Linked DNA regions of Homo sapiens: region 2 is linked to region 1. Evidence: fine-mapped expression QTL. A gene starts in region 1. The other region holds a variant in brackets. All regions are shown on one strand. Distances are between the middles of the regions.

Region 1 (4,391 bases):
AAAAAATAATAATTTTTAGTATGCAACATTTGAGACATACCTATACTAAAAAATTCGCCGATTATCTGAAATTCAAATTTGAATGTCTTGTATTTTTCTTTGCTAAATCTGGCAACCCTATCCTTAAGTGATTCACGGTAGTTGTGAAACATCAGGAAGAAATAAACCTTGTTATTTTAACCCACAGAGATTGAGGATTGTTACTGCCAATAACTTAGCCTATCCTGACTTAACTACTTCCCATCTCTGGTGAGGGAATATGTTGATGAGGCCTAAGTGTAGCCCCAATATTTGAAAGGAAGAAGGCAGTTTCTGTACATAATAAAAGAGAAACTTGGGAGCTCTGGGACATAATTTAAGAAGGAAGGATGGGTAGAAAATTGGTGTAACACAGCCTCAGCCATCGGGGAACTTCACGTCTACTTGGAAAATAAAAATTAAAAAAAAAAAAAAAAAAAAAAAAAAACGAAAAAAATAATGGTAGAGAGAAGTCCTGAGAATAAAGAGGCCATGTGGGTTTGGAGCAGGCATGGAAGGACTTCATGGGGAAAGGAGGTTTGCCTGGCCAGGAGATAAGCAAATAAGTAGGACTGGGGATGTAGAAGGGCTGAGAGCAGCCATGCCCCAGGGAAATGAGTAATCATGGTTTGTCTGTGAGGTTATTGTCTAGAATTGCCAGAGTCTACAAGACCAGCTGTCCCCGAGGGTTGGAGATAAAGTGCTAGGTGGTGTGGAAGTTGTAAGAATCAAAATGGAGTTACTAATGTTTTTTCTTTAAAAAAAAAAAAACTCAGGCTGTGCGCAGTGGCCCACGCCTGTAATCCCAGCACTTTGGGAGACTGAGGCAGGCGGATCACCTGAGGTCAGGAGTTCGAGACCAGCCTGGCCAACATGGTGAAACCCCGTCTCTACTAAAAATACAAAAATTAGCTGGGCGTGGTGGCGGGCACCTCCCAGCTACTCAGGAGGCTGAGGCGGGAGAATCGCTTGAACCCAGGAGGTGGAGGTTGCAGTGAGCCGAGATCGTGCCACTGCACTCCAGTCTGGGTGACAGAGCAAGACGCCATCTTGGGAAAAAAAAACAAAAAACAAACCAAAAAAAACTTGACAAATAGAGCTAGGGAAAGCTAAGAAGAAAGCACTCCCACACTTGTATGCCTGATAACAAAAACTAACACAAAAGGCTCTACAAAACCATAACCTTGCACAAAGGCCATCACAGCCTTACACATATATATAAAAAAAAAAAAACAAAAAAAAACCTCCACAAGGACATTCGCCCAGCAACTGCCTGTCTAACCTTGGACTGGCAACCCCTTGTTATTGATCTCTGTAGCCAAGGATAACCATTTGAAAACAATTATGAAATCCTCCTTACTTTCTCTTTGAAAACCTTCCTCTTCCTTTCTTCCTCTGCCTCCTCGAATATGCACAGTTTACTATGACATGCGTGTTACCGTTGCAACGCTCTGCTCCTGAACAAACGCCTTTCTCTAGACAGCCTCTCACTGTGTGGTTATGCAGCTTGACAGGGGCCCGCTGGACCCAAGTTTACTGCCTCTGGCAGGCGGTGGTGATGACGGGGAGTAAAAGCACCTTGTGGGGAGTTGAAGGGAAAGATATTTCAACGCAAAAACCCAGGCACTTTTACTACCTTTTGTTTGATGCATCGGTGTTACGGGAAAGCTCCTTGGCAGCGAGGGCCTGGCTCTTTATCGCCGTGTGTCCCCGCCCCACGTGGGTCCCATGCTTAGCCCACGGCGGGTGTTTGAAAAGCACGGAATGTATATGGCGGGACAGGGCGCGCTGCGGATACACCGGGACGCCCCCTCAGCCGCGACAGTAACGGCCTCCGGCCACCAGGGGGCAGCCAGGGCGCGCTGCGGATACACCGGGACACGCCCCTTCAGCCGCGACAGTAACGGCCTCCGGCCACCAGGGGTCGGCCAGGGCGCGCTGCGGATACACCGGGACGCCCCCTCAGCCGCGACAGTAACGGCCTCCGGCCACCAGGGGGCGGCCAGGGCGCGCTGCGGATACACCGGGACGCCCCCTCAGCCGCGACAGTAACGGCCTCCGGCCACCAGAGGGCGGCCAGGGCGCGCTGCGGATACACCGGGACGCCCCCTCAGCCGCGACAGTAACGGCCTCCGGCCACCAGGGGGCGGCACACGGCGCCTCAAACTGTAAACGGCTCCGGGCTTCGGAATCCGGGCGGGGAGCGGAGAGCGGTTCGCAAAAGCCAGTTGGTGCCCGGATGCCGGCATTGTCACGGGATCGCGGCCAAAGGGGGTAGAAGACAGCGCAACAGTCGCTCTTCTTGCATGAAGCTATATGCATCTAGTGTGACGGATTATCCTACCTGGAGACTGTCTTTTTCAGCTCGGCATCACGGGGGCGGGGGCGGTGACCCCCATCCGGGCTCCCCGGGGGCGGTGACCCCCATCCCGGCTCCCCGGGGGCGGTGACCCCCATCCCGGCTCCCCGGCCTTCTCTCCTCCGCCCGCTCCTGCCTCCCTTCTGCTTACTCCTCTCCTGGTCAACAGGTCAGCTCGGGGTCCTGCTTCCAACCTCCTCCTCCTAGTTGAAGCCGGTTCTCAGGAGAGAACCTGCCATCCGCAGCTTTACACCTCGGCAGGAATGTAAATCACTCTTCTCCCGTCCCAGGAAGCCTTTCCAGTGTTCTGATTCCAGAAAGCAGGTGTGTGTGGCCGGTTCAAGGAATTTCAAGCATCAGCAGGCAGAGGAAAGTACCAGAGTGGAAGGCAGCCCACAGGGTGTCGAAATCAAGCCACCCAGGGAGCCCGCAGATCCCACCCTCTCCGGTGAGAGAGTTTGGTGGGGAGCACTTCATCCAATGCAGGGAACAGCGTTACTGCGGCCTTCACCTCCCGGCTTCAAGTGATTCACCTGCCGCAGCCTCCCAAGTAGTTGGGATTACAGGCGCGTGCCACCACGCCGGGCTAGTTTTTGTATTTTTAGTGGAGATGGAGTTTCACTATTTTTCTCTCCCCATCCCGGGAAAGTTGTATCTGTTTACCACATGTTCTCCCACATCTACTCGGTTTTACCTCTGTAAGGCCTGAACTCAAAAGCCAAGAAAAAACCTCTTTCTCCAGAACTTTACCTTTTCTGGCAAAAGGAAGCAGGGAGACCTACTAGGAAAATGCCAAGAACAAAATGATTAATCATGTGAAGACGGCATCTACCACCTCAAATCGCCCAGCTCATTGAACCTGCGTGAGGATCCAGCACTGTCCCTGGTGTGTACAGCTCAGTGCACCGAGATGACCAACCGCCTGGGTTTGCTTTACTGTCACTGCTAAAGGCAGGAAGGCAGCTGCCAAACCAGGACAAGGTGGTCACCCCACGGTGAACATCAGTCACCCTCCCTAGCCCACACAGGCAAACAACCGGGGGAGACTATGGCTCAGGGCTTAGAACCCAAAGGCCTGAACAAATGAGGAAGTTTCTACAACAAAGACTTTCTTTGACAGAGTAACCAGTCATAATTTCTGAGCATTCCAGGAGCGCTGTGCAGAATCACAGGTATTTGGCAACTAGTGGGATAAAACAAAGGTGCCATTGAGGATGTTTACAACCAACCCCTCTCCGGAGATAACCTCAAGGTCTTTCCCTTGCACATGGCCTTTCCATGACTCATCCACAGCAGCTGCCTCCCTCCACCACACAAAGGACCCTGCAAGTTCTGTTTGGTATTCTTGAGAATAAAAACTCCGTGGGTCGTTCCCTGGAATTGGTTCTCACCCATTTTCTTTCCTCTGACCGTAGCCAGGATAGGCATCTAATTCTATAGCTTGTCCGTGGAATGGAAAAACAATTTGGATTTTCACAACCTGAAACCTAATTTCTGGTAGGAAGGTACCATCTGGTGGATATTTGTGAAACTGCTCACGTCCTGTGTTTGAAAATGAGCATCTGGGGGCAGCGTGCCTCTCCGAATGTCAATAGGAACGTTGCTCCGAGAGGAGGAGAGATCCACACTCAATGTGGCTGATCCCCTTAACTATGTGACACTGTGTATGTGACTATGTCATAAGCAGCGTCATCCCTGTTTACAGTTTTCTCAGTTTACAATGAATTTAAATAGCTACCCATTGCCTCTTCCTCTCCAAGCGTACTCCTTGCTCCTCCGTGACAGGCACATTGATCTATGAGAGTTGTCTCTTGGGAAATCTAGTCATATCTCATGCGAACATTTTCTAATTGGTGCACCCACCCCTCTGTGGGCATGTTCGCACAGTGTCATGGGCCCTTTGTGGAGGGTTGTCCCCTTTGTTCACCACAGCCCCTCTCTCTGAGACTCTGCACCCCCTATAGGAGGTCGGGGGTGTCTGCCATGTTTGTGGGACTAGCCCCCAAACAGCAGG
Region 2 (4,391 bases), 30 kb after region 1:
ACCTGACAGGTTCCTCTTATTTTTCTAAATCAGAGTGAATGCTGGCAAATATTTCTCATCCTAATCAAGGAAGGCACCCTCAACCTTCTCACCAATAATTGGGAAAACCAACCTTCAATCTACCACCACTCAATTCCTCACTTAATTTCAGCCGGGCATCTACAGTTCTTTTCAAATCTCTTTGCAAGCGACGTCCAAAGTCCCTGAACATGGTTGAACCTCCAGAGAGGACAATATTCTAGTGGAGAGAAAATAAATATAATATTTAAAAAGAGAAAAGTTTAAAGATATAATATATAGTACTGAAATGCTATTATATCCTTTTTATGAGAGGTGTTTAAGTTTTTTTAAAGTAAGACCTTGAATAACAATTTTGCTATAAATACCTTGTAGAGAGGACGTCTGACATCAATAGGACAATTCTGAATTACTTCATCTACAACTTCTGAGATAGGTTGTGTAAAGTCTGGATTAGCAAACTGAAAAATAAGTTGGATATATAATAGAGATCATATCACTACTGACAAATATCACAATAAAAGGTTAAACAAAGTTTTCAGTTCAAAAACAAAAGGCCTTTTAGAAACCACTAATACTGGTCTCTAACAGATTCAGATTGAAGACACTGAAATCAGAGAAAACTCAAAATTATGATGATATATACCATTTTATAACTATCAGAATAGCAAACATGTAAAGTCATACATATACTATGAGCTGGCAAAAATCTGGGTAAATGGAAACTTTCATATAACGCTGTGAGAGTATACACTGATGTAACCACTATGGAGAATAATTTGGCAATAGTAACATAGTGACATGGTCTGGCTCTGTGTCCCCACCCAAATCTCATCTTGAATTGTACTCCCATAATTTCCACGTGTTGTGGGAGGGACCTGGTGAGAGAGAATTGAATCATGAGGGTGGTTTCCCCCATACTGTTCTCATGGAGTGAATAAGTTGCACAAGGTCTGATGGTTTTATCAGGGATTTCTGCTTTTGCGTCTTCCTCATTCTCTCTTTGCCTGCTGCCATCATGTAAGACAGGACTTGCTCCTCCTTGCCTTCTGCCATGATTGTGAGGCTTCCCCAGCCACGTGGAACCATAAGTCCAATTAAACCTCTTTCTTTTATAAATTGCCCAGTCTCAGGTATGTCTTTATTAGCAGTATGAAAACGGACTAATACAAATAGCTAATAAAATTTTAAATGCACATACCAGTAACTCCACTTCTTACAACAAACTCTGAAGAAACTCCCCAAACATGTATGCTATTACATATGCATATTTACTATAGCCTTGTTTCTAAGAGGAAAAACCCGTTAAGTCCATCAATAGGGGATGAAATAAATAAATGTAGTCTAATCTCATTATTCATGATTCCATATTTGTGAATTTACCTAATCGCTAAAACATATTTGTTACTCCCCAAATCAAAATATGGTTATTCATGGACATGCACGTGTAGAGCAACAAAAATTTGAGTCCACTGATGTGCACATTCCCCATTGAGGTTGAACAAGATGATACTCTGCTATCTAGTTTCAGCTCTCATACTATAAACAAGTGTCCTTTTCACAGTTCTATTTAGTGGCACGGTTTTCATATTTTTGTTAGTGATTTCATTATTTAAAATGGCCCCCAAGCATACTGCTCAAGTGCTGGCTAGTAAACACAAGGAGGCTGTGATGTGTCTTACAGAGAAAAAGCAAGTTAGATAGCTTTGTTCAGACATGTGTTCTAGTGCTATTGAATATAAATGAATATACTAAAATGATATACTAAATGCAGTGCCTTTAAAAAGAAACACACATGAAACAAGGGTATATGTTAATGGGATAACAAAAATGTTACCAGAGGCTCAAAGAAACCTAATACTGTATTTCCCCTAGGAGCAATAGCTAGCTCAGTGTTCACTAATTCAGCGCTCTCAAGAACTTTTTGGCACATCTACTTTGAATAACAAACATCAGCTATATATTCAAACGATGATATACCATAGTCAAAATAAACTTACTATTTCCAAACAGCTGGCACTCAAGAAAAACATACTTTTTAAAAAACTAACTTAAACAAAAACAAAAAACAACTTGAAGCTGGGCATGGTGACTCACACCTATAATCCCAGTGCTTTGGGAGGCCAAGGCAGGACCATTGCTTGAGACCCAGAGTTTGACACCAGCCTGGGCAACATAGCGAGACCCTGTCTCTACAAAAAATTTAAAAACTAGCTAGGCATGGTGGCACACACCTGTAGTTCCAGCTACTTGAGAGGGCTGAGGAAAAAGGATTGCTTGACCCTAGGAATTCGAGGTTACACTGAGTTATGATCACACCACTGCACTCCAGCCTGGGTGACAGAGAGAGACTCTGTCTCTAAATAAATAATCAAAATCTAGCTCTAATTAGTGAAAAACAAACAAGTATTGTATATCTCCTCAGCCATTCATTTTTATCATTAGGTTGTCCTAGTTGAGAGACATTATTCCTTTATTTATTAAACTGAGTCTATAACTGTATTGATAATTATTAGGCATGTGTCAATTTTTTCTTTTTTTTTTTCTTTTTTTTTTTTTTTT[G/TG]AGACCGAGTCTCGATCTGACACCCAGGCTGGAGTGCAGTGGCGCAATCTTGGCTCACTGCAACCTCTGCCTCCTGGGTTCAAGCAATTCTCCTACCTCAGCCTCCCGAGTAGCTGGGATTACAAGCGTCCGCCACCACGCCCGGCTAATTTTTGTGTTTTTAGTAGAGACGGGGTTTCACCATGTTGGCCAGGCTGATCTCGAACTCCTGACCTCAGGTGATCCGCCTGCCTCAGCCTCCCAAAGTGCTGGGATTATAGGTGTGAGCCACCACGCCCTGCCTTTTTCCAGTTTTTAAGATTAGTTCTAAATTATTTACAGGCTGCGCATACAATGAAAAGAGATTTAATGTTATCAAAGTGACACATACTAATACAAAATCTTTTCATTTAGATCATGTAAATGGAGTGAAAAAGACATAGGATATACGAAAAAGAGATCCAACACAAGAGAGAGGGAAAGGGAATCCCTAGAATGATAGTAAAGGAATATGGCAACTCTATACTGGGAACCGACAGAAGCAAGTTCAGATTGGGATGTAAAAGACACTTCAGAAAATTAAACTGATGAATAAACCCTATACATCTGAATATCCTGAGAAGAGATTTATATAACTACTGAAGAGAGTTTGGAGGTGAATGAATGGTAATTATTTTAGCACTAAGCAAACAGTTTATTAATGACTTCTTGGAAAACAAAGTTACTTATAGGAAGGGAAAAGATTTCATGGTTAACTACATGGCTCAGATATGAACAAAATTTGTGGTCACAAAAACATAAGCACTGAATTTCAACCTACTTGAAATTATAATGTAACAAATGAGATGAAAAGGGAATAGAAAGGTCCTGTCTGTGATGACAGAAGAAGGATAAAAAAGACAATCTTCCTCTTCCATAGTTGGAATTCGACAGACAACGCCTAACACAGGGCTGGGCACAGTGGCTCATTCCTATAATCCCAGCGCTTTGGGAGGGCAAGATGGGTGAATTGCTCGAGCCCAGGAGTTCAAGACCAGCCTGGGCAACATGGCAAAACCCTGTTTCTACGAAAAATACAAAAATTAGCTGGAAGTGGTGGCACATACCTGTAGTCCCAGCTACTTGGGAGTCTGAGGTGAGAGGATCACCTGAGCCTGGGGAGACTGCAGCGAGCCATGACTCAGCCACTGCACTGGGTGACAGAGCAAGACCCTGTTTCCAAAAGAAAACAAGAAAAGCCTAACACTGAAAAAAAATTTGAAGTTGCAATATAACCAAGCAATTCATAGCTAAGGAGGTAATCAGCAAAAGAAGCAACTAAGAAGAGTTTGAAGTGGTTACCTCTAGAAATACAAAACAAGAGAAAGAAACATGCAGGGCACCCCTAGTTTTTGTTAGGATACGCAGACCAAGACTTTTAAACCATGTGCATATATATAACTGATTTTTAAAAACAGCCTTTAAAAAAAAGAAAACAAAACAGGTTTTTTAAAAAGAGAAACAGGTTTCTCATAGAAGAAATTACTTATAAGGAACATAAAGCTATAGACAACAGAAAATGTTTTAAAGTTAAAAAATAAAGAAAAATTGGTGTATGAAACAATAAAGGTTATTCAAATTAATAGAAAAAATGATATATGAAACATTAGCAGCAAGACACATTTTCATCCAGCCAACTATACCTTTCCTAAGCAATATGAAACACATTTTATTTACATATCTAAAGCTTTGGGTTATTTATTTATGAGACAGGGTCTTGCTCTGTTGCTCACACTGGAGTACAATGGTGCAATGCCAGCTCGTTGCAGCCTGGACCTCCTGGGCTCAAGCAA

Evidence for each region. PIP is the estimated chance that this variant, and not a neighbour inherited with it, causes the effect.
Region 2: its variant is the best candidate, but not a certain one, in a credible set for the expression of LINC01191 in neutrophils (CEDAR, PIP 0.70).

What each region holds. Positions count from the first base shown.
Region 1 is chr2:113,977,392-113,981,782 of GRCh38, reverse strand. LINC01191 (long intergenic non-protein coding RNA 1191) reads right to left here and starts at 2,214. Exons shown (of 2, transcript NR_148509.1): 1 at 1,655-2,214. LINC02992 (long intergenic non-protein coding RNA 2992) reads left to right here and starts at 1,799. Exons shown (of 1, transcript NR_034130.1): 1 at 1,799-4,114. RefSeq lists a silencer at 1,917-2,106 and an enhancer at 2,197-2,346.
Region 2 is chr2:113,947,567-113,951,957 of GRCh38, reverse strand. ACTR3 (actin related protein 3) reads right to left here. Exons shown (of 12, transcript NM_005721.5): 9 at 387-479; 10 at 113-238. Among named protein-coding and RNA genes, the nearest start is that of LINC01191, 30 kb to the left of the region's middle. The variant G/TG (reference allele first, on the strand shown) is at 2,581.